Linked DNA regions of Homo sapiens: all the other regions are linked to region 1. Evidence: fine-mapped expression QTL. A gene starts in region 1. Each other region holds a variant in brackets. All regions are shown on one strand. Distances are from middle to middle. Region 1 holds the start of KLHL2 (kelch like family member 2). Region 2 overlaps KLHL2 (kelch like family member 2). Region 3 has its middle 140 kb from the start of MIR578. Region 4 overlaps KLHL2 (kelch like family member 2).

The links. PIP is the estimated chance that this variant, and not a neighbour inherited with it, causes the effect. A credible set is the group of variants that fine-mapping cannot tell apart.
Region 2: its variant is the best candidate, but not a certain one, in a credible set for the expression of KLHL2 in whole blood (INTERVAL, PIP 0.77).
Region 3: its variant is the best candidate, but not a certain one, in a credible set for the expression of KLHL2 in whole blood (INTERVAL, PIP 0.74).
Region 4: its variant is the best candidate, but not a certain one, in a credible set for the expression of KLHL2 in whole blood (INTERVAL, PIP 0.80).

Annotation. Positions count from the first base shown.
Region 1 is chr4:165,204,282-165,212,281 of GRCh38, reverse strand. KLHL2 (kelch like family member 2) reads right to left here and starts at 4,721. Exons shown (of 15, transcript NM_007246.4): 1 at 4,380-4,721. The coding sequence starts at 4,405. RefSeq lists a silencer at 4,420-5,069 and an enhancer at 4,600-5,100.
Region 2 is chr4:165,307,912-165,315,911 of GRCh38, reverse strand. It overlaps KLHL2 (kelch like family member 2), which reads right to left. Exons shown (of 15, transcript NM_007246.4): 10 at 5,162-5,359; 11 at 4,347-4,448; 12 at 2,546-2,674; 13 at 1,746-1,886. Among named protein-coding and RNA genes, the nearest start is that of MSMO1, 16 kb to the left of the region's middle. The variant A/C (reference allele first, on the strand shown) is at 3,191.
Region 3 is chr4:165,523,807-165,531,806 of GRCh38, reverse strand. No RefSeq gene overlaps it. Among named protein-coding and RNA genes, the nearest start is that of MIR578, 140 kb to the right of the region's middle. The variant T/C (reference allele first, on the strand shown) is at 4,500.
Region 4 is chr4:165,266,947-165,274,946 of GRCh38, reverse strand. The region is part of intron 5 of KLHL2 (kelch like family member 2); the gene reads right to left. Among named protein-coding and RNA genes, the nearest start is that of GK3, 8.8 kb to the left of the region's middle. The variant G/A (reference allele first, on the strand shown) is at 4,956.

The DNA of each region.
Region 1 (8,000 bases):
TCTACCCTTTTATCCTGCTTCATTTTTGTTTACTGTAATACTACTAACAATATTACATATTTGTTTGCTATTAGTTTCAATCATAGGAAAAGGAACTTTGTTTTCTGAGATATCCCCAAAATCTGGCCATAGTAGGCACTCAATAAATATAAATTAAAAACTCAAACTACCTCATCATAAAGAGTAAATGCATTTGGATTTGGTAGAACACTACAGAAATGCAACATAAAGTGAATTTCCTTCTCTGGATCACCTTGAAAAAACCTGCCTGATCTTAAGAAAGAAGTTCAGTGGTCTTCATAAGCACTACTAGTGTAAATCCGTAACAGCCATAGATGAGTAAACTTACAGTCACCTTCAGAAAAGCACATTTACTAATAGTTACTGCATGCCTACCATGTACATCAGAAACAAAAGGTTTGGGGCATTTTGCAGGGAGTAGGTGGAGTGATTTCCCAGCATCAGAAATTTTTTAAACTACTACATAAATGCTACCTATTTCCAGAATTCACTTCTCAAGTTCCCAAATGCACCTCAAAGTTGTCTCTATATGTAACACTTCCTTCAACACACATTGATCCACATGTCTTCTTTCACCATTACCTTGTTTGTGGGCCATTATTACTCCTAAATATTTTAAATGTCTTTGTCTATCACTGGGGAGATTCACCTGTGATATGAGAGATGCCCAATGTACATTTAGTTAAACAAAAATAAGAATACACTCCAATGCACTATAACAGACAAACAAATGAATACTGGGTATCCTGTAGCAAGGTTCCAAATTCACAGCAATTGAATCTTAGAAAGAACATTAAAGGTCATCCGGTCCAGCGGACTGCAAATGTCAGGCTTCAGTGAACTTTTTACTGATCTATGTCAAAATGAGGACAATGTAATAAGTTTTCATAAGGCTAAGTTTTTTAAATTTAAAGACAATCCTTTAGTCAGATTATATTCTTCCTTATATTTGAGGAAGGATACTAAAATGTTTTTTTCTTTCATAAAAAGATGGTGATAGTTGATCATTGTTGTTTCATAAATAATTCTTTTACTTAGCAAAACAAAAAACTTAGCAATTGTTAGACTTCAATTGTTTTTTTCTTTTTTTAATTTTACAGGTCAGTTAAATTCAAAAATGTGAGAACCTCTGCTCTAATCCAACCAATTTTCTGCTGCCTAAATGCCTTAGAACATGGTCAACAAGTTGTTTTTCTGCCTATGCATGACCACCTCTGACGACAAGTCTCTAGTAATGTGGAACCATCAACTGAAAAAAGATATGGTTCTATCTGAGGGATGTTTGCTTAGTTTTGTGAAGGAAAAGCAAAAAAATCAAGGCTTACAGAGAGTAAGCCGACTTGTGAAAATGGAGCCAGTAAAAAAACAAGTGCCAAGAAGACTGATCAGTAAGAGAAGATCAGAGGGATGCACTCAGGCCTATACCTCACAGTCTTCCTTCAACTTATTATGAAAATCCTTTATACAAATAACTATAAAAGCCAGACTGTAAAATACATTCCTGAGGTCAGGGCTGGTCAATTTACATTTCCTTTTGCACATCTCAGTTTACCATCTGAAATTCCTTTACTAATCTACATCTAAACTACATCTCTCAATTTACTACCTGAAATTCCTTTACTAAGCTACATCTTTTAGTTACACATCTTTCAGGTTTGATCAGAAGCAAATGTAACACAGTCTCAATATCACCCAGACCCAGAATGCAACAGAATCTAAATGCCACATATACTCAAGTATGCAAAAAACAATAAGCACAAATATATAGTCCAACGACAATTTTTAATTATATGAGAATTAAAAAGGATGAAAGTTGGAGGCAAGGAATAGAAAAAGCACAAAAGATCAAAAGCTAATTTCAAGGAGTCCATCCTGAAGGAACCAGGAATGGTGGGTACAGATGCCTGACCTCCCTCCAAGACAATGTGCCAACAGGCCAGTGGAGAACAAGGTGGGATCTGAGAACAATGTAAATTTGGATGTTAAAAGAGAACACAAGCAAAAGCACCACGCACAGTGCCAGGCAGAGACAGGCATTCAAATATTTGCACATTGAATGAATTAATAAACAGACACTTACACAAAGAGAATCTGGGGCCGTGCTTCCAACCATACCATAAGGCACTTTAAGTCCAGGTCATCTTTCTTTGACTTAAAGCTCAGGCTAAAAATCTAACTTCATGAAAAGCTGAGTCTTCCTAATAGTTTCCACTGGCCTCTGTTCTAGCCCAGCTCTGGCAGTGAGGCCCGGTAAAGTTCCTTCCTAAAGACACTGCCTGCAAGTCTCAAATCCGGCACACGGGATCCATGGTGGAGGGATGTTAATGGGAGTGGAGGCAAACAGGCCAAGGGGTGGCAAGGAAAAAAACTATTTCTGATCCACAGAATGGCAAATAACACCATAACGAGTTCTTGAATTAGGTTTAATCCTGGACAGAACCAAATGAAAATAAAAACCTACTTGTATTTATAATTAAATAGACAGAAACAATGAAAAAGTCTCACCAACTTTAGCCACCCCTGATTGAAAGGAGTTTTAACAATTCTTTCATCCATGCTGGCATTCCAAGTTTTCCATTATATCTCAGCCTCTCATTGTTCCAGCACTATTGATGGAATCTCAATGCCAAAAATGGCGCTGGTCATCAAAATTATGATTAGCTGATCTACCCTAGAGTCAGTTTATCAATGTTTCAATGCATACATCAATTCTATTTTTTATTATTTCAATTTAAATCATCTGTGTCTCTATTCCCTCCCTCCCTCCAGAGGCTGCTTTCCCACACCCTTCTTTTCACCTGCATTCTAAGTATTCCCTTGTTCTTTCCTTTAGCTCCCTCTGTTCCAAAAGTAAAAACGAACTGCAGGAACTTATGTAGAAGGCAGGTTTACTACAGATAGCATACCTACATGTTACATATTATATACCATATGTTGGCTAAATACAGCTAGCATATCCTGCTTTAAGTGCTTCTGAGCCTGGGCAGACCCCCGTGTGCTCATGCTGCTGATGTGAACCATCCACCATCATATTTCCTAGGGGTTCAGGTGCCTTCCTCCAGCCTGCTGAAGAACATGACCAAATCTCAGAGCCCTCAAAGCCACAGCTATCGAGAGGTGACTAAGCCCCTGCTTCTGTCAGCCCAGGAAGGCCAATTCAAGAGTCTTATCTACCCCCTAGATTTCCACGACCTGTTCCACTCAAGCTAAAAATTCTGAAACGCACTTTTAGAAACTGTCGTTCCAGAATCCCATTAGCTCTCCTAAAAGGGCTGAACATCAAAAAATTATTCAACCCAAGCCAAGTATCCTTATTTTGGCTGGAATTCTGCCAAATAACCACAAGAGACTGGTGCGGTACAATCGGCATGGAGTGAAGCTTGCCAAATTTGACCGGAGAACGACAAGCCTCCATGAATAAGCTCTCATGAAAAGGTAAACCATTCTTCAGGATGAGGTTTGTCTGCGATTTGAAAAGTCAGATTCAAAGGACTCTTGTTCCTTCCTAAGAGAAGAGGGAACCAAAATTGAAATTTTCGAAACTCCTGGGTATTTACAGTTCACTTTTACCAAGATGTTTTTAAAACTAAAAACTAAAATTTAAAAAAAAAACCCTTGTTCTGAATAATGCAATAATGTCTTCTACATAATGTTTCAGCTATTATTTCTAGAAAGTAATTCTGTTGCCAGTGATCTTGAATGTACTTGGGTACCAAAGAAAAAAGACACCTGTGCCTGGCAGGTCGATACGCTACTAATTTGCCCGAGGTACGAACGAAACAGAAGATGCTGATTTCTGGATAAAACGTTCTGCAGTGCCAGGTAAAAGAGGTCACATGCCCTGAACGGCCGCCGCTCATTTAGAGTGATGCAAAAGCTCCTCAGATATTAATTTTGTTAGAAATTCGGGGAATCAAGCAACCTAAGATCAATTCATTTAGACAGCGGGTGACTGGTACTTTCCAGTTTCCTTTTTTCAACGGACTCAGTGCATCCTAGCCTGATCTCTTATAAAGGGGTAGGCAAACTCGGCACCAGGTGCCCATGCATTTCAGGGAGGTACACACAGGACCTGCAGGGTCACCCATGCACAGCCCCACCCCGAATCTTCTATCCGCCCGAGATGGGGAAGACCCTTCCCCAGAAATCCTGGGCAGCGTTTTAAGTCACCGCCTGGCCAGGCTGAGTTTCCGTCCGCGTCCGCTCAGGACTGCGGGCACAGCGCCTCGTCACGCCCCGCATCTCCCACCTCCCGCCGGCCCCGGCGGCTGTCCCCAGAGCTGCGCCCGCGGCCGGCGACACGCGCCGCAGCGGCGCGCTTATCCGCAGCGGCGCAGCCCGCCCGCCCGCTCACTCACGCGGGAGGCAGCGGCGGCGTCTCCATTGTGGCTCCTCTCGGGCTTCAGAACGCAGGCACCGACCAACACAGCCAGCACCATTCCAGCCGCGGACGCCGGCACTGCCCGCCCGCCGAGCCGCGTTCCATCCGCCCCGGAGGGGGCGCCGCGCTCTCCTCACCGCGCGCCACCACCTGCGGCGGCGGCCCCCGCGGCCATGGCCCGCTCGGCCGGGCGCGCTCCGTCTACTGCGCGGCTCCCGCGCTCGCCCGAGTGCGGGGCGGCGGCGACGGGACCGGCGGGCGCGCGGGCTCGGCCACTTCCGGGTTCGGCCCCGGCCGGCGCCGACGCTGTGACGGGACTGCGATGCGGCCTCCCGCGGCGGCCGAGTACCCCTCCCTCGGCGCCTCCCCTTCCTCCTGCTGCTGCTGCTGCCGCTGCCGCTGCCGCTTCTGCTTCTGGAGGCGGGCGGGCGGGCGCCAGCCGGGTGCGGGGCGGGCGTGCCCAGACGCTGGCCCGCAGGCCGGGACGCGGGCGGCGGCCGCCCACAGCGGGTCTCTGGATCGCCGGGACGGGGGCGCTGGAAAATGGGAGCGGAGGGGGTTCTCCGTGCAGAAAAAGGGCGGCCGAACGCACGGCGTAATAATGCTCGGTATCCACTTGCTGCTCTGCTTCGCGGGCGTGTACACGTTATTCTTTTCATTTGTGCCTGTACCCAGGGAGATGGGAAGGGTAGGCATAACCAACCAGTGTCCTTACAAAGGGTGGCACTGAGGCAAGAAGAAGTGATTTGCCTGTCCAGTGTCCCAGGCAGGAAGCAGGCTCTCCCTCCTCAGTATGCTAGCCATTCCTTGGACAAGTGAAGTGAGCACCTGCTAAGCAAGGTTTTAGTGCTGCGGCTGTGACAGCAAAACCAAGTCTTTCTGCTTGTGGAGCTGTCCATCTAGACGGGGTGACGGAAACAGTAAGTGATGCTTACCATGAAGAAACATAAATGAGGATGAGGAGAGGGAAAGAGATTTTAGAAAGAGTGGTCAGAGAAGGCCTCTCAAAAGGCATGAGTTAAAGAGATGGAATAACAGGGGCTTTGAGTAATGCAAAGAATGCCTAGGGCAGAGGGAAGAGCAGCGTGGAGACTGCTAAGCAAGATCCTGCCTGCCTTGTTGAGGAACGGGAAGGAGAACAGTGCAGCTGGTGGTTCTCCAAGTATGCCCGCTGGAAGCAGTAGCACCTGCGAACTTGTTAGAGATGCGAATTTTCCAGTCCCACTTTAGCCCTACTGAACCAGAAACTCTGGGGGTGGGGCCCAGCAGCGTGTGCTTTAACAAGCTTTCCAGATGATGCTTGCTGGGGCCGCGAGGGTGGGAGACCCTCTAATGAAGCAGAGTGAGGTCAGGAGGACGGCGGCAGGAATGGGTGTGGCGAGGAGTAATCACAGATCACCCAGGCCTTGCAGGCCGTGATAAAGGACTTGGCTTTTACTGAGATTAGAAGCAATTAGAAAGTGGTGAGTAGCTTGATCTGATCATTAAAAGGATGACTTTTCTGGGATTTGTTTGAAAATATCCCACAAAAAGAAGGACAGAGGTCGGGCGCCGTGGCTCACGCCTGTAATCCCAGCACTTTGGGAGGCCGAGGCGGGCCGATCACCTGAGGTCGGGAGTTCGAGATCCGCCTGACCAACATGGAGAAACCCCGTCTCTACTAAAAATACAAAAAATTAGCCGGGCATGGTGGTGCATGCCTGTAATTCCAGCTACTCGGGAGGCTGAGGCAGGAGAATCGCTTGAACTAGGGAGGCAGAGGTTGCGATGAGCCGAGATCGTGCCATTGCACTCCAGCCCGGTCAACAAGAGCGAAACAAACTCCGTCTCAAAAAAAAAAAAAAAAAGGACAGAGAAGTGAATAGATGAATATTTGCAAAATGTTAATTTTTGAGGCTAAGTGTTGGGTGCATAGGGGTGGTCATCATTTATGTGTGTTTATGTGTATGTTTTAAAAGATAATAATGGGCCGGGCGCGGTGGCTCACGCCTGTAATCCCAGCACTTTTTGGGAGGCCGAGGCGGGCGGATCATCTGAGGTCAGGAGTTCAAGACCAGCCTGTCCAACATGGCGAAATCCCGTCTCTTCTAAAAATAGCCGGGTGTGGTGGTGGGTGCCTGTAATCCCAGCTACTGAGGAGGCTGAGGCAGGAGAATCACTCGAACCCAGGAGGCGGAGGTTGCAGTGAGCCGAGATCGGGCCACTGCACTCCAGCCCAGGCAACAGAGCGAGACTCCGTCTCAAAATTCATAAATAAATAAAAGTTCATAATACAAAGTTTTTTTTAAAAAAAAAGATGACTGATTGCTGTATGGGCAACATGCATAGCGAGGCAAGAGAGCAAGCAAAGAGATTAGCCTAGCTGGGATGAAAGGTAAGGATGGCTTGGATTAGAGTCCGAGTGACTGAGAAAAGTGAACAGGTTCTGAATCTGTTTAGAAGGTAAAGTACTCAGGAACTGCTGACAGATTAGCATATAAAAGAAAGATGATCCTAAGGGTTTTGTTCTGATCTCTGGGGAGAATTGAGTTGCCCTTTACTGGGATTGGGGATATTGAGAAAGAACAAATATTGGAGGGCGGGGTGGAGATTGTATTTGTAAACTCTGATTTAGATATGGTAAGTTTGAGATGTCTGTTAAACATCCATGTGAAGATAGGTGTAGACAATTAGATATATGTATCTGGGGTAGATATAAATTTGGAAGTTGTTAGTATACAGATGGGTATTGAGATCAACTAGATTATGTAGCTAGAGAAAAGAAGTAGACCAAGAAGTAAGCCCTGGGGCACTCCAACATTAAAAAAGAAGAGGAGGAGGACTCAGCAAAGGCGATGGTAAAGGAACAACCAGGGAAGTAGAAGGAGATCCAAGGCAGGTGTCTTGGCAGCCTAGTGAAGGGTTCCAGAAAACAAACAAACAAACAAACAAAAAACCCTTAGTACACTTCAGCATGAGCTAACTTCTCTGTATGATGGTTCTGTTCAGAGCCATAATAAAACTTCCTACTTTACAAGGTTGTTTTAAGAATTAAGTGAAATAATTGATGTAAAGTATATAGCACATAAATGTATAATGGAAGCACTTAATAAATGTTAGTTGCTGCTATTATTTCTGTACACTTCTGTGGCCATCAGTTATACCTTACTCTGCTAGGAACTGGGTTAAGTCCTAGAGCCAGGAGATACTGACTTAGGTTTTACCAAACCTTTGGCCTGACTTCCTTCTGCATGCAAACTCAGTGAGTAGGGCTGACTCATCAGCCATTTCAGGAACTCTTTTGAGGCGGGGGGTGGGAGGTGGACTTTTTCTATTGCTTTTGTATCTTCCCACCCAAAATAGTGTTATGTGTACAAATAAATACTAAAAAATTACGATGTGTCCGTCTGACAGCTAGGCACATAACTTCAAACCATAGCCCCTCTCACATCCTCCTCTGGGTTAGTTTTGTCTATCATAATTCTTTGCTTAAGGGGTTCGACTCATCTAGCATGCTAAATGTCAACCCAAACCTTTCTTTTTTCACAACCACCCCCATTTGTAGGCTTCACAAGTATACTGGGAAAGAGTACATTACCCACATACAATTCAGCCTTAC
Region 2 (8,000 bases), 100 kb before region 1:
TCATAATTTACCATACTTATGAAAACTTTTGAAATCTGGCTTGTAAGCTGCTTGCTATTTCAAATTTATATGGATGCTTTCACCTCTCCCCGCTTAACATTGAATACATGTCCTCCACTCTTTGCCAGCTTAGTTCTTTCTTTCCAATAATTTAGGTGCTTGGATGAGGTCCTTAGCCTAGGTTATTAAAAAGGAAGAGCTGAACAGATCTTATCAGAAGTTTGTTTCAGATTATCAGGAATATGGAATGAGGGTGAGATTTTAAAATACTCTTATGAACTTAAATAATTTTAAAATATATGCTCAATTGGATTATACTGTATCTTGTAAATTATAGAAGTAAATAATTCAAATTTTGTTATTTGCATAGAAAATAAACATCATTGATTGAGAAGGAAAAACAAACTGAAAAGTAAGCTTTCAGATTTCTCTCTCTTCCTGATTATCAAATAAACTCAAGTAATGTTGTCTAAATCAAAATATGAAACAACTTTTCAACAGAGACTTACGTCTTTTTCCTAAATCCTACCCTTTCCCACACAATTTTTTGAAGAACAGGATAATGGTAGCTCTATATATACAAATTATCTCTTTATTCTTCTACCTAAATGAGTGAATTTTGATATGAAAACAATAAACACATATAGAGAAAAAATAAATTAGTCTAACCTTTAAGAAAATATTCATAAAAAGCTCAAATTGCAACTAAATTTCCTAATCCAGGAAGACACATGCACAAATCACCATGGCTTTTCTAACTTAATGTATACTGGAGTCACTTATTCTACTAAGGACCCATATTTGAGGGTCTTACCATCTAACGAACTGATTACCATATACAACTGACTAGATGACGTGCAAGGCCAAACAGAATTAACTATAAATTCTGGTCTGCTGCCAACAGTATCTGCAGTTCCACATACTTAGTCTCTCTTAGTAATCACCCTTCTTTAAAGAGAAACTAAGATGAGCGCTGATGGAGGGGGGTGTCCAATGGTGTACAGTAAGTTTGAGACTCACCAGGAACTTATTTTACACTATGAGAAATGACATGAAGATAATGGCATTTTGAAGAATCCTAGCATTTCCTGAAAGGCTATGTAGCTATCTTGAGTCTATTTTCCATTTGTATTTCCCTTTCTTGATTCTTCTTTTTAAGTGGTTAGTTCCCTAATCTTGAAGTTCTCTACTTTCTTAAAATTATTTGTTGTTATTGTTGTTGCTTTAGTTTTTCCATTTTTCTGGAAATCCTGAACTGTATTAAGCTAGGGTTACCTTTGCAGACTTCCCCTCTAGATTTAGATAATCAACTAGCTTTTTAACCTAGTATAAATATCTACTCAACTAGACTAAATTTCCTGAGAACTAGGATCTCCAGTGTATGATAGATACATAGTAGGCACTAAATTATATCTGTTGTAAGAATGAATGAATTCAGTATCATTTAAAGGGTCTACACCTAATTTAATTAGTCTCCACATTTATCACCAAAAAGTAGCAGCTAGTAGAAATGATGAGTTTACTGAAGTGTCACAACAACCTGTTATGTTCCAGAGACTATGGCAGGCATTCACTTTATAGGATTATTACATAAGTTTCTGGCTTTAAAGAGTTCAGAGTCTATCAGGGAACCCAGATCAGTAAAAGAACAATGGAAATACCATTGATATTCATTGATAGAGTGATACCAGTGAAACTTAAAATAAAATTCAACATAAGTTTTATAACCTTAAACTGACAGATACCTGCATTTCTTCTGCACATGTTCATATCTGCAACCTGTCTCCATGCGTTAGTGGTGGGATCATATACTTCAACACTTTTTCGTACTAAAGGGCCATCATGACCTCCTACAGCATACAATAAATTGTTTAACACACCAACACCTATAAAACACAACCAGCCAAATAGAGGGGCAAAAAGAACAAGAGATTTATATCATATTAGGTTTATTTAAATGACTTGTAACTAAAACTTTCGAAGTTATAATTCATAATAAAAGCAAGCTGATACTATAGCCTACAATTTAAGAAATGGAAATCAATACAATTGATGATTAAATAAGCATCTCAACAAACTATTATTCTGAAAAAAGAGGCATGTCAAACAGAATAAAAATATTAATAACATGTAGGTGAAACACAGGGAGGGAAAAAGTCCTTTAATGTAATCCTTTTGAAAACAATATCCATAGTAAAATAACCGCATATTAAAGCACAAAATTTTAAGAAATATACATGAAAAGACTTGATTATTAAGCAAGTTCCCCAATAAGCACTAAAAACAAAAAACTAAAAGGAGTGCTAACAACTTGAATATATAAATGAAACAGAAATGTCTATGGCACTTAGACATTAAATTTTAAAGTAAAATTACTTTGTAATTACTCCCATTACCTGCACAATTCAAAAGACATTTAGCAGTGCCACTAAAATCAGCATATCATATATTTTCAGATAATGTAAAGTGATGCCACTGAATCATTTTACTTTAACTATTTTCCATCATTTTTGTGCTTCAGTTGCTAAAACAGGTTCACATGTACCTGCTCCACTCCGCCTGGTGCTCATTTCTGCTATATAGGTCCACTCATTTGTTGTAGCATTATAGCATTCTACTGTGCTAAGACACTGACGTGATGCTCCATCATAACCTCCTACAGCATAGAGCAAACCTACACATAAAATCACATAGAAAGCCAAATTTATTAAAAAACAAACAAACAAAAAACACTAATTTTTCAAGCCAGAAAATATTAATATATTTTCCTTCATGGCAGCAGAGTTTCCCCTTAAAGTGCTGCTGATTTTTATGAAATATATTAGGGTCTTGCCTAATGGTGACAGATGGGGTAATCAAATCATGTTATGAAGATCTGCAGGGTATAGCTGATGATGTTAATTTTATACTTTCATCAATAATCTGATAAAATAGCACACTCATTATATCTTTAGGTAACACTATTTGATAAGTGAACAACATCCTGTAAGACAGAATTAAATACCAAAGTTATCTTAGGAAATCGGAAAAAAGGTTAAATCAAAAATTAATAACAGAATGCAATGCAATATTACTTGGCATTAAAAAGGCATGAAGTACTAATAAATGCCTCAGTATAAATAAACAAATCTTGAAAACATCACCCTAAGCCAAAGAAGTGAGTCACCAAAGATCACATACTGTATGACTA[A/C]AATATTCAGAAGAGGCAAATCTCTAAGTGATAGAAAGTAGACTAGCAGTTGCTGAAGGTTGGGTAAGATACGAGTAAGAGCCAAGGGAAGCAGGATTGCTTTTAGAGGATAATAAAAATGTTTTAAAATGAATTGCAGTGATGGATGCACAATGAACTGTATACATGAAATGGGTGAATTGTATGATGTGGATTATATCACAATAAAGCTGTTTTTTTCTAAGTGCACAGATTACACCTACGATGAGGAGGGGGTGGAAACCTGCAAATTTGCCCAAGTCAATTAAAAAAAAATAATAATAATAATACTTAGAGCCTTCCTTAACTTCTGTTGGGAGACAAAGTAGGATATAAATAAATAACTGTGGCAATCCATCCCTTAACAGCCCTTCTCCAGATATAAAATTACACATTTATGTCACCTGAATTGTTCCCCCAAGCAACTGTTAAAATCAGTTGACAGTCTTATACAGCAGCAGTCCCCAAACCGCAGGCCATGGACCGGTACCTGTCTGGAACCTGTTAGGAACCGGGCTGCACAACAGGAGGTGAGCGGCAGGTGAGCAAGTATTACAGCTGAGCTCTACTTCCTGTCAGATCAGCAGCGGCATTAGATTCTCACAGAAGTGTGAACCCTATCTTGAAATGCACATTTGAGGGACCTAGGTTGTGCACTCCTTATGACACTCTAATGCCTGATGATCTGAGGTGGGAACAGTTTCATCCCAAAACCATCCCCCCAACCCACCCCTGTCCATGGAAAAATTGTCTTCCACAAAACCAGTCCCTAGTGCCAAAAAGGTTGGGGACTGCTGTTATATAAGTCAAACACACACGTGTTATATAAGTCAAACACACACAGTTATATAAGTCAAACACACACACACACACACACACACACACACACACACAGAGAGAAAGGAGGAGGGATAAAGGGAGGGGGATAGAGAGGGAGAGAAAAGGCTTTATATAGGTTGATTTATATAGAGAAGCTAATTTTAAAAAGAGGATAACTGAAATTTTACAGTAATTACGACTTTTCTTTTTAAAATGATAATTAGCTTGCCCATTCAGAAAACTAAAGTTGAGATTACTGGAAGAACCACTCTCAAGGATCAAAATGCCACATGTACCTGAAAGAACTGTCAACACCTACCTCCAACAACACCCACACCAACACTGCTCCTCCTTGTATTCATGGGAGCTACATGAAACCACTCATTAGACTTTATGTTGTATGCTTCCACAGATGACAAACCTATAATAAAGCACAATAGTCTTCATTTCCTTCTCTAAAAAATGTCAATAGTTCATATATATGGAAAAATACTTCAGGTATGTTATACTGGGCTAAAATTAAGAGAAGAAAATGGTGGAACATAAACACAGCAATTACATGAAAAACAGGTACAGCTTGTTTTCCAGAAGGCTCCTACCTAAGCTACTGATATTTATAAGCTTTTAAAATTTGATGACTGATACTGATGCATAAGAAAGAAAATTTATATACTCACCACTCATATCATTTAAGGAAATTCTTGATAAAATTTTAAACTTATCTTTAAATACCAGTTAAAACCTCACATGTTGTAATCCCAGCACTTTGGGAGGCCGAGGTGGGCGGATCACAAAGTCAGGAGATTGAGACCATCCTGGCTAACATGGTGAAACCCCGTCTCTACTAAAAAATACAAAAAAAATTAGCCGGGCGTGGTGGCGGGCACCTATAGTCCCAGCTGCTCGGGAGGCTGAGGCAGGAGAATGGCATGAACCCGGCAGGCGGAGCTTGCAGTGAGCCGAGATTGCGCCACTGTACTCCAGCCTGGGCGACGGAGCAAGACTCCATCTCAAAAAAAAAAAAAAAAACACAAAAAACCTCACATGTGCCCTAATGTTGCCACAATTTATTCCATAAACATGACTACTACGTTAATTTTAGCAGCAATGTAGAATAAATGAAAAGGAAATTACCTGTACTCCCATCAAAGCCTCCCACAGCGTATAATAATCCATTTAACACAGCAGCTCCCAAAGTGCTTCTCCGGTCTCTCATGTTAGCAACGCTGGTCCACTGGTCCTTCACAGGGTCGTAGGAATCTACAGTGCGAACTCTTAATGAGCCATTAAAGCCACCAACAGCAAAAACAAGTCCAGCCATGTAGACCATGCCTGCAAAAGGAGTACAGCATTTAATGATCAACATGCAACTCAACTACCACCAATATCCAAAGATTGCTTTCTGATAAATCTATAGCTGTTGTCAGAACATGCTACTCTTAGGAGGAGCCTGATTAAATAAATCCTTGAAAATGCTATTCATTTGCAAGAACATCCAATCACTAAATTGTCTTTCTTTCTAAGGTTATTATTATTATTATTTCTTCCTTTCTTTATTTTGAGACGGAGTCTCACTCTGTCGCCCAGGCTGGAGTGCAGTGGCGCCATCTCAGCTCACTGCAAGCTCAGCCTCCCGTGTTCACACCATTCTCCTGCCTCAGCCTCCTGAGTAGCTGGGACTACAGGCGCCCGCCACCACACCCAACTAATTTTTTGTATTTTTAGTAGAGATGGGGTTTCACTGTGGTCTTGATCTCCTGACCTCGTGATCTGCCCGCCTTGGCCTCCCAAACTGCTGGGATTACAAGCGTGAGCCACTGCACCTGGCCTTCTTTCTAAGGTTATTAAAAAATGCAATGGCATGGGCTAAAGTACCATGTTGACTCTTGGTTTTTTTAAATATCAATTTACAAGCTTAAATAATGAGCCATTATTTTCCAACTACTTGAACCTGTACTCACCTCCCATAGCTTTCAATTTTGGATCTTCTAGTGGATATTCTTAGAATGAAACTCCATACGCTTATAATTTATTTGCATAACGTATTCCTAGTTTATCATGTTAGTGGGCTAAATCAGGGGTCGGCAAATTTACAGCTACAGGCTAAATTTGGTCCAGCGAACTATTTCTGTAGAACCCATAAGCTAAGCATGGTTTTTATATTTTTAAATGGCTGAAAAACAACCAAAAGAGGAATAATATTTCATGACATGTAAAAAGCTATATGAAATTCAAATTTCACCATCCATAAATATAGTTTTATTGGAACACTGCCACACTCATTCATTTACATATGGCTGGTTTTGCACTATAGCAGTAGATAAGAAGCTGTGACAGAGACCATATAACCACAAAGCCTAAAATACTTATTCTCTGGTCCTTCAAGAGAAAGTCTGCTGATCCTTGGGCTAAAGAGATATTACGGAATCAGTGAATGGAGAAACTAGACTGCTAGACTCAGGTTTCAACCATCTTTTCACTTTTCTCAACTTTTTTCATGCTGCTGTCCTAATCGGACAGGCTCCTATCACCATCTACTCTGTTCTCTTTAACTCTGAATCCTCAGTTAAAGTTCCACATTCTCTATGATGCCTTCCCTGTCCACTTTAGCCTAAAAGGGATTATGTCCAGCTCCCGAACCCTATAGCAAATAACATCTATGTTGTGTACTTCAGGTTTAATAAATGTACCGTCTATAATATAATTACTTTAAATTGTTCAAATTTTTATTGTTCTTAGTTCTATAATGTTTATGTCCCTGTGCCAGCCTGAGGGCAGGCAATGTGGCTCACAGTTCTCTGAATCCCTGTAGGGAGAACTGGAATCACCAGATATGTTTGACGAGCTCAATGTTTTGCAGATGTTATCAGGCAAGAGATGTACCTCTGCCCCTTACTGTCTTAACCTCTGGTGCTTTATTCCCCCACCCCTGTAAAAATACACGGAAATGCAGTCCTCCATATGGCAACAAGACCTTTCCAGTTCAGATGAAGTTGCCTGTTTTGGCCCCCTGCTAGCACAGAATTTAACAGACATCCTAAGAGGGCCTGGAGACTCGTGAGCAGCAACATACCAGGCAGCATGTTTCAGCATGAAACAATCCTGTATCCCAAAATCATAACTAACTCCAGGGAATGTTCATTGTGGGAATCTTGCCCATTGCAATTTTCATTTTCCTTTCTCTACCCACAAAATAACACTACAAATATGCCATCTCTTAGAAGTAACATAGTATGCTTACCAAGGTTTAGAGAATTTTAGGTCACAGAGAGGAAGAAAATAAATGAATCAATCTATGAAGTGCCCCCTACCAAAGGCTCTGGGTCTGGAGAAGGGACTGAACTAAAAGAAGTATGATAACCTCCCAAAGTTATCAGGAAACTGAAGTGCCCAGAAGTTTAATTACACAGTTTATTAAAATTTGGCCAAGTTTACACAGTTAAGGACATTGGCTCTAATCTGAAGGAGGGAGAGGAAAGAGGGCATGATGAAGATAAAATTTATTCATAGTTACCCAATAAGTAAAGAATACATTTTGCAATAAAATGAGTCAAATGACTTATGGCCTCAATGAAAAGGGAACTGTATTAGGAATCAGATATGAATTAAGAAACCAGTTAGTAAATGGCATACAAGACTCCATTTCAGATAGTAACGATAAAGATAAAACACCTAAAAATAAACTTGCCAAGAAACACAGAGGACCATTGGAAGAAAATGTTAAAAATCTACTGAAGGATATAAAAGAAGACAGGAGTCCTATCACTAGTTTCATAACATAGTAAAACATATTATAAAGCTCAGTAACTAAAATTGGCTTTGTCTTGATGCATGAATAGGCAAGACAAATCAATGGAAGAGAACAGAAAATTTAGAATAAAACCAAGTAAATGTGGAAATTTAATACATGATAAAGGCAGCATTTCATCAAATGAATGGAGACAGATAAGTCAATAAGGGGTATTTGGACAAC
Region 3 (8,000 bases), 320 kb before region 1:
ATCACACCCCTCCCTAGCTCCAAACTCTCCCCTCATCTCCTTCTATATCTTTACTCCGCATTATTTTCTTCATATCACCTACACTACCTGCAAAGGTGTATTATATGTTCATTTTTAAATTTTCATTTTTCCCCCTCCAGTATGTGGCCTCAAGAGCTTAGAACGGTGTCTGACAAACCACAAGCTTGTAATAAATAATAATTGAGCCACTAAATGAGGTTGAGGTACAGCTTTGAGCTGGTAAACATTGAGTTACAGCTAGCAGCTACTGTTGCTGATACAGAATAGACGTATATGTGTGTACAGTATAAAGAACCAGCAGTCATTTCAGCCCACGCTATCACCATTGCTACTACTGCCGCAACTACTACTACCTATACTATTACTACTACTCTTACTAATGAGTGCCCATAATAATAGCAAACCTTTAAGCACTTAATATGTGCCAGGTATTGTACTAAGTACTTGATCTGCATTAAATCAGTCAATCCTCACAAGAATTCCACTAGGTAGTGAGCTGACACAAAAGGTCCTGCTATTGAATCAGAATCATGTGACTCAAAGAACTTACCCAATGTCAAACTTAATTAATAATTTCAAGGATACAAGCAATCAAGGGGCACAAGCAAAGCAATGACAGGTACGAGACATCCCACATGTTCTGGCTCTTTCTTTTTCATAGTCGTCTAGACTTTCAGGCCCAGAGTGATAAGTGAGTTCTCTAATGAAGTTTGCAGGTCACCTCACATAGCGGGGAGAATTTAAGCCATGAAACATCTTCATTTTAACCCAGAGTGTTTTTGCAACTTGTGCAACATTATTGAGATAGCTATGCCTCATACATGTATAGATAATATATAAGATTGTTTACCCTAAGCAACCCTAAACCAGAGACATTCTGCTCAATGTGTATCATAGACAAAAGATCTCCCTCTTAGCAAGTATCACTCGTCTATTTGCCTGCTGGTCTGGAGATAGGGAATAAATGTGTGTTCCCCAGATGTATACATTGAAAATCTAAACTTCAATTTGATAGTATCAGGAAATGGAGTCTTTGGGACAAGGTGTCTGGATGTTTCAGTCAGTCTGGGCTGCTATTAATTGAGAAGTAATTAAGTCCTTAAGGTGGAACCCATATGAATAGGATTAGTGCTCTTGTAAAAGACACCTCAGAGAGCTCTCTAGCCCTCTTTCTGCATATAAAGACACAGCAAAAAGATAGCCATCTATGAGACAGAAAGTGGGCCCTCACAGACACTGAATCTTCCTATGCCTAGATTTTGGACTTCCTAGCTTCCAAAACTGATAGATAAAGTTTGTTGCTTAAGCCACCCAGTCTGTGGTAATCTATGACAGCAGCCCAAACTGACTAAAACATCCAAATACCTTGTTTCTTTTCTATTCCTTTTTTTTGAGACAGAGTCTTGCTCGGTCACCCAGGCTGGAGTGCAGTGGCACGATCTTGGCTCACTGCAACCTCTGCCTCTTGGATTCAACTAATTCTCCTGCCTCAGCCTCCCTAGTAGCTGGGATTACACGTGCCCACCGCCATGCCTGGCTAATTTTTGTATTTTTAGTAGAGACAGGGTTTCACTGTGTTGGCCAGGCTGGTCTTGAACTCCTGACCTAAGGTGATCTGCCCGCCTCAGCCTCCCAAAGTGCAGGGATTACAGGCGTGAGCTACCGTGCCAGGCCTCAAATACCTTGTTTCTGAGGAGATGGGACTGGGTGGCCCGCCTTCTCTTGTTTCTCTGGGTGTGTTTCTCTCATAATCAGTAGTAGAAATGGGTTATATGCCAACTGCTCTAACTCTTTGCTCTGCAGGTAACAAATTAGTATTTATGTATCAGGTTTAGAAAAGTAAACACAGTGAATGAAAGATCTGGAACTGATAATAGAGTATCCAAGAAATCTGTGATTTCTTCACCCCTACACTACTCCCTCCAATAGATAATGCCCTCTATAAGCGCTTAAGTAAATCAAACATTTCTTGAGAAACAGCTATGCTAGGCTTTGTCAGTAAAAAAGAATAGGGCATGGTCTCTGCCATCGAGCTTAGACTGGAAATATAAAAATATAAAGAAAAATGTAATGAAGTGTGGTATGTTCAATGAGACAGTTACAAGGTTGTGAGAATACAAAAATTTGGAGTAATTCAGGAAGTAAAGAGGAGGAGAGCAGGGATGGCTTGGAGGAATGGCCTAGCTGTTGGCTATTCATGTGTGTGTGCCTACCCTTGGAAAATACACATCCTTATAAAGACAAATGATGGAGAGCAAGAAAGAATAACAGAATGCAAGTACACCGTCGGACTCAGTTTGCCTTTCAGAAGGAAATCAAAACCTCTTGACACCAACTGAAAGGCCAAGTTGGACAGCAGTTCCTCTGAAAGCTAGGGGAATTCCACAGTGAAGCTCAAGGCAGTGGAAATCTAATGACCATCACTGCATTTATATTAACTTTGAAAGTTTTCAGAGCATATTCGTCTTACTTTTTTACTAAAAAAGCATGCTGCCTTTCATTTTTATCATTTCTAGGTCATGTTTTATTAAGTGAAGTATGAAAAAGGTAAATGAAAGCAGTTTTAAATATGATAATCATTTTAAAAATTTTTACCATGGATTTACACTGTGTGCAGGACAGTGCATTTCCAAAAACATAGACTTGTGTCTTAGTTTGCTCAGGAAGCAATACCATAGACTAGGTGGCTTATAACCAACAGAAATTTACTTCTCAGAGTTCTGAAGGAGGGGAAGTTCAAGGTCAAGGTGCCAAAAGATTCAGTGTCTGGAGAGGGCCCACTTCCTGGTTCATATATGGCCATCTTTTCGCTGTATTCTTACATGGCAGAAAAGGAAAATGAGTTCTCTGTAGTCTCTTTTCAAGACACTAATCACACATATGGGGGCTCTGCCCCCATGACCTAACCACTTACCCATAACTTCATCTCCAAGGGCCGTCACATTGGCGGTTAGGAATTCAACGTATGAATTTGGTGGGGAGGGAGGACACAAACATTCAGTTTATAGCAGCATGGAACTTACAGAAGCCAGACCATGAGTTATGAAGAGATCTCTATTTTAGAAACAGGTTTAACTGGTAAGGAACTCATCATTTATTATCTCTTCAAATTGATAAATCCTTATTTCTCACAAAAAGAAGAGTGCTATGTTTTTTATTTAAAAACTTATACACACAGGGATGTTATTGAAGAGACACATGACACCATTTCATTAAATCTGAGATTGTGCATCAGCCTTTCATGGCCACAAACCTGGGACCTAGAAGTATGATCCAAGTTGCAGAAGTAGGTACCTAAAAGGAAAGGTAAGAACTATATCTGAAGATCATTAGCAGGAAAAAAAGTAATATCTCACAGGAGATAAAGCACAGACCAGAAGCCAATCTTCCAAGAAATCAGTTAAAAATAGTAGACTGGATAAAGAAAATTTGGTACATATACACCATGGAGTACTACGCAGCCATAAAAAAGAACAAGATTGTGTCCTTTGCAGCAACATGGATGGAGCTGGAGGCCATTATCCTAAGCAAACTCACACAGGAACAGAAAACCAAGTATCACATGTTCTCACTTATAAGTAGGAGCAAAACACTGAGTACATATGGACACAAAGAAGGGAACAACAGACACCAATGCCTACCTGAGAGTGGATAGTGGGAGGAGGGTGAGGATCAAAAAACTACCTATTAGGTACTATGCTTACTACCTGGGTGATGAAATAATCTGTACAACAAACCCCTGTGACATGCAATTTGCCTATATAACAAGCCTGTACATGTAGTCCTGAACCTAAAATAAAAGTTTAAAAAGTAAAAATAAAAAAAGAAATTAGTTAAAATCTTAATCTTAAAAATCTTAACCTTGGTTGCCCCAGAAATATGCAAATGTGAATTTGTCTGCATTACGTGGAGTTGAGCCTGTGGTAAAGCAATTTTTCATTTGTCTTCCTTCATGACAGAACTGCCTTGCCCTTCTAAGAAGCACGGAAGACTTTTTTATCCTCATCTACCTAACTTCCCCAGAACAACCAAGCACTACACTTCGAAAAATCTCCCATGTTCCCTACTTCTTCCTAGTCCACAAATCTAATTTTAAAACTACAAAAACATTAAATCAATTATTTTTTGTATTAACTTAAATGTACCCAATATATAATCCAACTTTCAGATGTCCATAAATGAAGAATAATGCCATCCATTCATATGTCTTTGAGTAATTTTCACCCCTTTTAAGTGAAAAGTTGGTTAAGACTCTGCACCCAGCAGCATAGGGCAAGATTAAGATAAACAGAACCATGAGAACTAGAGATGAAATAAACTATAACTATTCTACAAAGACAATCTAGTTGTTAAGAGCTGTGGGGAAGATCTGGATGAATGGTTTGCTTTTCCAAAAGTTTGAAGTCAGCCCACAAATCTTAGTATTTACTTTGAGGAATTCTTGGGAGAGTATGCACAAATTTATGAAAAAACAACAA[T/C]AATTTGTCACTACAAATTACCCTTATTATCACAAATAAAATCCATCTGCCAATGAAGGAAGGGCACAAAACCCACCTGTCCTACGTACTTCACTGACAGCTGGCAGAAGCCATCTGCTGCTGTTACGGGAGGAATATAGGCAAGAAATCCACTTATCCAAGACTCTGCACTGATACAAGACAGTGTTTCTTTGCCCCTGAGAAGACACAGGAAGCCCAGTTGTATTCCAGACCCTATACCAAGAAGGAAGCAGAGGATGTTTGCTATTGGAGAGAATCAAGAATTTTGAAAAAAGTCCTATCCCTAAGATTTAGGTACATAGGGCCTCCCTAAGACTGAAACCGGGACAGGAAAACCAAGAAATTTTTTCTCTTCACTATAAGTCTTACCCCAAATACCAAAGAACAGACATCTGCTATTAACAGAAGGGCAAGAAGAGAGATCCCCTCCATAGCAGAGTCATACGGGTGCTACTGAAATCTGAGGTAGGACAAAAATACTGAGAGAAATTCTGTTGCTCCATGTCTCATACTAAGCACAGGGCAGTAGCTGTACCCTACTAAAGGAATTTAAAGACTTCATTGCACTAAAGCAACAACAAAGCCCAAACCCAGCTCACCTGCAGTCTAGACAGAATCAACCTCTTCCTCTTCCCCCCAAACACACACACAAACACACACATACATGCACGCACACACGGCTTTATAGGCGAAAAGGCATACTCATTTCTGGACATAAAAATTATTTACCTCCATCTCTGCTGTTCTGTTATACACATGTCCAGCATTTAATCAGAAATTATACAACCTCCAAAAGAGCGAGAAAAAAAATGGACCCATTGTTAAGATATAAAATAATAATAGATAGTCAAAATGTAAAAGAGCCAACAGAATCACACCCAAAAATGGCCTAAGTTGTTGGCATTATCAGACTGAGACTTTAAAATAACTGTGATTAATATGTTAAATGATCTAGTAGAAAAGTTGTACAATATGTGTAAGCAGATGAAGAATTTCAGTAAAGAGATAGAAACTCTTAAGAACCAAAGGAAAATGCAACAAGTGAAAAACACCATACCAAAGATGAAAAATTCCTTTGATGGGCCAGACATAGCAGAGAAAAAAAGAAATGAACTTGAAGATAGGTCATTAAAATTGCATGTACTAAAACACTAAGAGGAGGGAAAAATTAAAATGAAAAGAGTATCTAAGGTCTGCGAAACAATATTAAATATTTTGAAAAAAAAAAACACAGGTAATTGGAGCCCCTGAATAGGAAGAGAGAAAATCAAGGTAGAAGAATTGTTTGAAAAGATAATGATTAATAATTTTTCAATATTAATAAAAACAAACGGGCCACAGAGGAAGCTCAGAGAACTCCATGCAAGATAATACAAAGAAAATATCCATTAAAAAATATAGAAAAGACTTTCTGTCTCTCTCTCTCTCTGTCTCTGTGTGTGTCTGTGTGTATGTGTGTGTGTGTGTGTGTGTGTGTGGTTTGTATTAAAACATAATAATATTTTTAAACATATTCAAAACCTTTTAAATGGCTGTGCATATCATTGGGATTACAACCAAAGCTGACTTTTCATGTGTGGTTACAGACCATTTCAGAATCACTCTGAACATTAGAGTAAGAAAACTAATAATTCAGGAGCCCTATTGTTTACCAGACATTCTGCCACATTCTTCATATACTCACCTCTTTCAACCACCACAAATCATTTATTCATCCTGTCAATATTTATCAAATGCCTACTTTTTGTGCCAGGCATGGCATCTCTGAGAAAGTAACATAAAACTGAAAGCTAGAGGACAAGGAAAAACCACCATGTGAAGACAAAAGTGGCTAATGGGGAAAAGGACAGCCTAGTTTCCAGTCAAAGGAATGAATCCCAAATGTCTTCCAACGAACAGGAGAAAGAATGGCTTCAGTGCAGTAAGCCAGGAGAAGAATGACTGACTAGGAGGCCTGGCCCTGCAGAGGATCACCAGTGCCTTGTAGAACAAAGCACGTTATTAAGCAGCAACTTGAGGACAGATTCTCCTGACTCCCTAGCTTCTGCCCATGTCTCTGGGGTAACTACTGACACTTTTAGAGCTTTACATTCTTCACAGCACTTCCGTATTCCTTACGCATATGAGAGCTCCTAAAAAGAACGGCTGCTTAGCAGAGCTCTAGGCTCTTTCCTCCACTGTGAAATATCATGCGATGCTGCTGAAATATAAGTTCTGACAACAGGAATATGCTGAGAAGCCTCCAAATCTGAGTGAATAAAATGCCCAACTTATTAAGTCATGGGTGGTGGAGACTTTACAGACGCACTCAGCTCCCTGAGCATGATGTCAAGACCTCTACCCCCAACACACCCCTGACCAAAAGTTATGTAACCAGAGGACTCTGCTTCCAATATTGACCACAAATGATGTAATAAAGGTCATCTTTATCTCTCTTTTTCCTGTATTTATCAGTAAAGTGATAATGAAGCCTACAGGGCAAAGACAAGAAGGAGGCTAATGATTGGAGGCAGAAACACATCTACTGAGGGCGTTTATTACCACAAACTCATACTCTTGAGGGAGGAATGCAAGCTGTCATTTAAACATCCTCTGAAGGGCCTTAACTTTAACTCCCTTAACCTATAACCTACTTAGGTAGAGAAAGGGGCAGAAAATACTGTTAAGTACTTTAAGCATTAATGAATACTCCCAAGTATTTGACGCCAAGTAAATGAGATGTCTTTGCAGCCCTGGGTGTTCTGATATACGCGCCTTCACTCTGATACTTTTCTTACCCTTCCTGCCTCCTTGGGCCTTCACTTTAGCCTCCCAGCTAAATTAACTCAACTGAATGTCTATTTGTACTTTTAGTGGGCTACCCATGCTACAGCCTACATTATGAAATCTCATGAATTGACTTCCCATGAGAACCTAGAAATTTGACTCTAGTTCTGACTTTACTGAATTTTGCACTCTATTCAGGAGATATTCCTGTGTGCGGACAGTAGTAGGCATGTGTTTGAGTGGGGACTGGACCTGACTCTCATTTATCCTGCTGTAGCAGCTTGGCAGGTGGGACCTAGGGCCCTGTCCTAATGTCACCTGTCACAGAGATTCTCTCTTCACATTGGCTCTTTTTAATTTTTTTTTTAAGACAGTGTCTTACTCTGTTGCCCAGGCTGGAGTGCAGTGGCACAATGATCTCGGTGCACTGCAAGCTACACCTCCTGTGTTCAAGCGATCCTCCCGCCTCAGCCTCCCAAGTAGGTGGGATTACAGGTGCCTGTCACCATGTCCTTCTAATTTTTTCATTTTTTTATTTTTTATTTTTTGTATTTTTAGTAGAGATGGGGTTTCTCCATGTTGGCCAGACTGGTCTGGGACTCCTGACCTCAAGTGATCTGCCCACCTCGGCCTCCCAAAGTGCTGGGATTACAGACATGAGCCACCACGCTGGGTGCACAATGGCTCTTGATTTTTATTCTCACTGCTACTACC
Region 4 (8,000 bases), 63 kb before region 1:
CCACGCTGCTGAAGCCACGAGAGCATCTCGGGGTGAGCAGCGTGGATTCCACATCCTCCCCTGCTCTCACTCTCTAACCTACCCATTTGGTTGCTCACATTTTTACTTTCCCTAAAGATACTGATGTTATTAAAAATAAGCAGGAGTTCATGGAAGAGATCTCCATGGAACACTGTTAATTTTTTCATTATACCTGTACAATTTAATTTAATTATAATGTATTCTAGAAAGCTTGTTTCCAATGGGCAAGAGAAAGAAATGAAGCAGTTCTTACGTCCAGAATCTCCAGTGAGTTTTCAAAGGATAGAGAGTGCTCTTCCATTTTTTTTTTTTTTTTTGAGACGTAGTCTCACTCTGTCACCCAGGCTGGAGTGCAGTGGAGAGATCTCTGCTCACTGCAAGCTCCGCCTCCCGGGTTCAGGCCATTCACCTGCCTCAGCCTCCCAAATAGCTGGGACTACAGGCTCCTGCAACCACGCCTGGCTAATTGTTTGTATTTTTAGTAGAGACAGGGTTTCACCATGTTAGCCAGGATGGTCTCGATCTCATGACCTCATGATCTGCCTGCCTCGGCCTCCCAAAGTGCTGGGATTACAGGCATGAGCCACTGCGCCCAGCCCGAGAGTGCTCTTCTTATGTGCAGTCACACCATGGACCAGACAATACCCCGAGGTCCTGCAGGCTTTCTCTCCTTATCCATCCTTTTTTCCCTCAGCTTCTTTCTCCTCCCTTCTGCTTTACATGTATATATGTATGTATGTATTGAGTCATCTATTGCTATTTATTTCTTCCCTTCCTTCTTTTCTTTCCTACCTAGAAAAGCCTGTCACAAGTCCTACTGCCTATGATAGGGAAAAGAAAAAGAAAAAGAAAAAGAAAAAGAAAAATATTAACTTTACTGCCACTGTGTCCTGTCACCCTCTTGGAGTTCTTCACAAGCTATGTGATTTGACTTGAAAGTAATTTGAAGGTTTGGGTAAATTTTCTGGACAAATAGAGTGCTTTAAAGACAAATCACCTAAACAACAATTATTTGTTTATGGTAGAAAAGGAGCTATAGACATCTTACTGCATGGACTCCTTATCTCCCCACTTCCTATTTGCTTAAAATGTCAAGAACAATCAGATAGTTTCACTATGAGGAACAATTGCGTATTAGTCTGTTTTCATGCTGCTGATAAAGACATATGCAAGACTAGGCAATTTACAAAAGGAAGAGGTTTAATGGACTTATAGTTCCACATGGCTGGGGAGGCCTTACAATGATGGTGGAAGGCAAGGAGGAGCAAGTCATGTCTTACACGGATGGCAGCAGGCAAAGAGAGAGAGCTTGTGCAGGGAAACTCCCATTTTTAAAACCATCAGATCTTGTGAGACTTACTATCACAAGAACAGCAAAGGAAAGACCTGCCCCCCATGATTCAACTACTTCCCACTGGGTCCTTCCCACCACACATGGGAATTCAAGATGAGATCTGGGTGGGGACATAGCCAAACCATATCAAACTGTTTTATAGTATTATTCTGGATTATTTTGGAAAGTTTATTACAACTAGTTATCAATACACCAAAGATATGGAAATAACTTCATTATACAAGCATGGTCTTTGTAATGGCATTTGTTTAAAATATAAGGATGAAATACATAGGTAAAGCATGACAATTGCTTCAAGATAATACAAGAGGATGTATAAAATTCCTCAAGCTGTAGACATGATTTGTGTACTTTTCTATACGTACATTAGACTTCAGTAAAATGTTTGCATATAAAAAAAAGGGAAGGGGAGTAACGAAGGTTATAATTAAAACAAAATTGTCCCTGAGTTGACAACTGTTGAAGTTGGATCATGAGTACTATTCTATTCTTGTACATGCTTGCAATTTTTCATAATGAAAGATGTTTTAAAATGTTACCTAAAACCTAAGAAACTCAAGCAAATACAAGATTCAGAAGCATGGTATAAAAGCAGTACATCCTTTAAAGCTAGATTCAGATGCAAAATATAGTGCATTAAAAATGAAGAATCAATGCTTCTTTATAATTTTACTGAAAGTGAATAATTTTTCATGAAAAATTCTTGGCATAATTACAAAGGAGGATTCTACAAACTAAGAAACAGAAGTGTTCTAATTCTGGTGGAAAATTTTTTATATTTTGTAGTATACTAGAATAAATTTAAGATTTTAAATAAGAGAAAGATTTTTAAAAATCTAATGATCTCCTAAAAACACAGTAAATGAGTTGCTTCTGATATAAGCAAAACTAAGAGTTCTAGTACATCATATGAACTATGTTTGGATATCCTGTGCATTAATCCTACTTTATTCATTCTCTCCCCAGGCACTGACCCTCCTCTCCCCATTAGCAGTCAGTAACATTTATCAATCACTATAGAGAAAACTGGCAGCCCAGGAAAGATAAAAGGTTAAATAGTGATTGTTTCATGCAGCAAAAAATATCTAAAAATACAAAAGCTTTCTTGGTTTTCCTAATAGAAGTCACTTATAACAGGTGCATTAAGTCTAGCAGTTAATGGAATCTGAATTTAGAAGTAATATTTTCTACTTAGTTGAACAGAATTGCTTGCATTGGAATACACCAATAAATTCATATTTGTCTTTGGTTTTTCATAAAATGCTTCATTCTATTCAAAAGTGCTGCATGAATAGTGCTACACACTACAGGCATTCCCCAACTTACAGAAGGGTTGTGTTCTAAAAGCTCATCTGTAAATCGGCTTCCTAGAACTCAGATCACATTTTTTCACTGAAATAATTTTCTAAAGGGCAGTTAGGCCATCAGGCCACCCAATAGAAATCAATAAGGTCTAAATTTATTGGACCTACTGTGATTTAGTGAAGCACTGTGGTTTTTGTTTTTTCAACTAACCACTTTGAACCATTATTTATTTGGTAAATGAAATACGGATTCTAGGACTACTACTCTCCAATGCTCTGTGCAGGCAGAGACACACATATATATACACACATGCATTCTCCCTTACCCACATCTATGTACCAAAAGCTTCCTTACTCATCAGAGTAAGCACACTGAAGCAGTTTAGACAAAAGGCTCCTGCATTTGAAATCTGGGGAAGTTACAGTTCTAGAGCCTATTAAAGGAGCAGTGAACACAGAAGCTTCCACAGGAACTATTCCTATTGAGTCTCATAGATGCAAAGCAGAGTCTTGCAGGCAGTTGGTGGATTGTAACTTCTACCAGATTTATCTTCCAGAAATATAGTTTAAAAACAAATTAGCAACTTCCGTAAGTCCCAGACAGAGTAATCAGGCAAAAGAAAGAAATAAAGGGCATCCAAATTGGAAAAGAGAAAGTCAAACTATCTCTGTTTGCTGATGATATGATCTTATACCTAGAAAGCCCTAAAGACTCCTCCAAAAGGCGCCTAGCTTTGATAAATGAATTCAGTAAAGCCTCAGGTTACAAAATCAATGTACATAAATCAGTAGCACTGCTACACACGAACAATGACCAAGCTGAGAATCAAATTAAGAACTCAATCCCTTTTATAATAGCTACAAAATAAAATAAAATACTTAGGAATATATTTAACCAAGGAGGTGAAGAACTCTACAAGGAGAACTACAAAACACTGCTTAAAGAAATCATAGATGATACAAACAAATGGAAATACATCCCATGTTCACAGACTAGAAGAATCAACACCATGAAAATGACCATACTGTCCAAAGCAATCTACAGAGTCAATGCAATTCCTATCAAAATGCCATCACTCTTCACAGAATTATAAAAAAAAAATCCTAAAATGCATATGGAATTTTTTTAAAAAGGCCCAAATAGCCAATGTAATCCTAAGCAAAAAGAACAAATCTAGAGGCATGACATTACCTGACTTCAAATTATACTAATATAAGGGTATCATAACCAGAACAGTATGGCACTGGCATATAAGTAGATATGTAGACCAATGGAACAGAATAGAGAACCCAGAAATAAAGTAAATATTTACAAACAACTGATCTTCGACAAAGCATACAAAAACATAAACTGGGGAGAACAAAAGGCAGCAGACCGCTTCTGCAGACTTAAATGTCCCTGTTTGACATCTCTGAAGAGAGCAGTGGTTCTCTCAGCATGGCGTTTGAGCTCCGAGAAGGGACAAACTGCCTCCTCAAGTGGGTCCCTGACCTCTGTGTAGCCTGACTGGGAGACACCTCCCAGTAGGGGATGACAGACACCTCAAACAGGTGGGTGCCCCTCTGGGATGAAGCTTCCAGAGGGAGGATCAGGCAGCAATATCTGCTGTTCTGCAGCCTCTGCTGGTGATACCCAGGCAAACAGGGTCTGAAGTGGACCTCCAGCAAACTCCAACAGACCTGCAGCTGAGGGGCCTGTTGGAAGAAAAACTAACAAACAGAAAGGAATGGCATCAGCATCAACAAAAAGGACATCCACACCAAAACCCCATCTGCAGGTCCCCAACATCAAAGACAAAAGGTAGTTAAAACCACAAAGATGGGGAGAAACCAGAGCAGAAAAGGTGAAAATTCCAAAAACCAGAGCATCTCTTCTCCTTCAAAGGATCGCAGCTCCTCGGCAGCAAGGGAACAAAACTGGATGGAGAATGAGTTTGCCAAATTGACAGAAGTAGGCTTCAGAAGGCTGGTAATAACAAACTTCTCTGAGCTAAAGGAGCACGTTCTAACCCATCACAAGAAAGCTAAAAACCTTGAAAAAAGGTTAGACGAATGGCTAACTAGAATAAACAGTGTAGAGAAGACCTTAAATGACCTGATGGAGCTGAAAACCACAGCAAGAGAACTTTGTGACTCATGCACAAGCGTCAATAGCCGATTCGACCAAGTGGAAGAAAGGATATCACTGATTGAAGATCAAATTAATGAAATAAAGCAAGAAGACAAGATTAGAGAAAAAAGAGTGAAAAGAAATGAACAAAGCCTCCAAGAAATAT[G/A]TGATTATGGATAAAGACCAAATATACGTTTGATTGGTGTACCGGAGAGTTATGGGGAGAATGGAACCAAGTTAGAAAACACTCTTCAGGATATTATCCAGGAGAACTTCCCTAACCTAGCAAGGCAGGCCAACATTCAAATTCAGGAAATATAGAGAACACCACAAAGACAAAGATAATCCTCAAGAAGAGCAACCCCAAGACACATAATTGTCAGATTCACCAAGGTTGAAATGAAGGAAAAAATGTTAAGGGCAGCCAGAGAGAAAGGTCGGGTTACCCACAAAGGGAAGCTCATCAGACTAACAGCAGATTTCTTGGCAGAAACCCTACAAGCCAGGAAAGAGTGGAGCCAATATTCGACATTCTTAAAGAAAAGGATTTTCAACCCAGAATTTCATATCCAGCCAAACTCAGCTTCATAAGTAAAGGAGAAATAAAATCCTTTACAGACAAGCAAATGCCGAGAGAATTTGTCACCACCAGGCCTGCCTTACAAGAGAGCTCCTGAAGGAAGCACTAAACATGGAAAGGAATAACCGGTACCAGCCACTGCAAAAACATGCCAAATTGTAAAGACCATGGATGCTATGAAGAAACTGCATCAATTAACAGGCAAAATAACCAGCTAACATCATAATGACAGGATCAAATTCAAACATAACAATATTAACCTTAAATGTAAATGGGCTAAATGCCCCAGTTAAAAGACACAGGCTGGTAAATTGGATAAAGAGTCAAGACCCATCAGTGTGCTGCATTCACGAGACCCATCTCACATGCAAAGACACACACAGGCTCAAAATAAAGGGATGGAGGAAGATCTACCAAGCAAATGGAAAACAAAAAAAAAGCAGGGGTTGCAATCTAGTCTCTGATAAAACAGACTTTAAACCAACAAAGATCAAAAGAGACAAAGAAGGCCATTACATAATGGTAAAGGGATCAATTCAACAAGAATAGCTAACATTCCTAATATGTACCCAATACAGAAGCACCCAGATTCATAAAGCAAGTCCTTAGAGACCTAAAAAGAGACTTAGACTCCCACACAATAATAATGGGAGACTTTAACACCCCACTGTCAATATTAGACAGATCAACGAGACAGAAGGTTAATAACAAGGATATCCAGGACTTGAACTCAGCTCTGGACCAAGCAGACCTAATAGACATCTACAGAACTCTCCACCCCAAATCAACAGAATATACATTCTTCTCAGCACCACATTGCACTTATTCTAAAATTGACCACATAATTGGAAGTAAAGCACTCCTCAGCAAATGTAGAAGAACAGAAATCACAACAAACTGTCTCTCAGACCACAGTGCAATCAAATTAGAACTCAGGATTAAGAAATTCACTCAAAACCACACAGCTACATGGAAACTGAACAACCTGCTCCTGAATGACTACTGGGTACACAACGAAATGAAGGCAGAAATAAAGATGTTCTTTGAAGTCACTGAAAACGAAGACAGAATGTACCAGAATCTCTGGGACACATTTAAAGCAGTGTGTAGCGGGAAATTTACAGTGCTAAATGCCCACAAGAGAAAGCAGAAAAGATCTAAAATCAACACCCTAACATCACAATTAAAAGAACTAGAGAAGCAAGAGCAAACACATTCAAAAGCTAGCAGAAGACAAGAAATAACTAAGATCAGAGCAGAACTGAAGGAGACAGAGACACAAAAAACCCTTCAAAAAATCAATGAATCCAGGAGGTGGTTTTTTAAAAAAATCCACAAAATTGATAGACTGCTAGCAAGACTAATAAAGAAGAAAAGAGAGAAGAATCAAATAGATGCAATAAAAAAATGATAACGGGGATATCACCACCAATCCCACAGCAATACAAACTACCATGAGAGAATACTATAAATTCCTCTATGCAAATAAACTAGAAAATCTAGAAGAAATGGATAAATTCCTGGACACATACACCCTCCCAAGACTAAACCAGGAAGAAGCTGAATCTCTGAATAGACCAGTAACAGGTTCTGAAATTGAGGCAATCATTAATAGCCTATTAACCAAAAAAAGTCCAGGACCAGATGGATTCACAGCCAAATTCTAACAGAGGTACAAAGAGGAGCTGATACCATTCCTTCTGAAACTATTCCAATCAATATAAAAAGAGGGAATCCTCCCTAACTCATTTATGAGGCCAGCATCATACTGATACCAAAGGCTGGCAGAGAAACAACAAAAAAAGAGAATTTTAGGCCAATATCCCTGATGAACATCGATGCAAAAATCCTCAATAAAATACTGACAAACCAAATCCAGCAGCACATCAAAAAGCTTATCCACCATGATCAAGTCAGCTTCATCCCTGGGATGCAAGGCTGGTTCAATGCACGCAAATATATAAACGTAATCCATCACATAAACAGAACCAATGACAAAAACCACATGATTATCCCAATAGATGCAGAAAAGGCCTTTGACAAAATTCAACAGCCCTTCATGCTAAAAACTCTCAATAAACTAGGTATTGATGGAACGTATCTCAAAATACTAAGAGCTATTTATGACAAACCCACAGCCAATATCATACTGAATGGGCAAAAACTGGAAGCGTTCCCTTTGAAAACCAGCACAGGACAAGGATGCCCTCTCTCACCACTCCTATTCCACATAGTGTTGGAAGTTCTGGCTAGGGCAATCAGGCAAGAGACAGAAATAAAGGGTATTCAGTTAGGAAGAGAGGAAGTCAAATTATCTCTGTTTGCAGATAACATGATTGTATATTTAGAAACCCCATTGTCTCAGCCCAAAATATCCTTAAGCTGATAAGCAACTTCAGCAAAGTCTCAGGATACAAAATCAATGTGCAAAAATCACAAGCATTCCTATACACCAATAATAGAGAGCCAAATCATGAGCAAACTCCCATTCACAATTGCTAAAAAGAGAATAAAATACCTAGGAATACAACTTACAAGGGATATGAAGGACCTCTTCAAGGAGAACTACAAACCACTGCTCAAAAAAATAAAAGAGGACACAAACAAATGGAAGAACATTCCATGCTCATG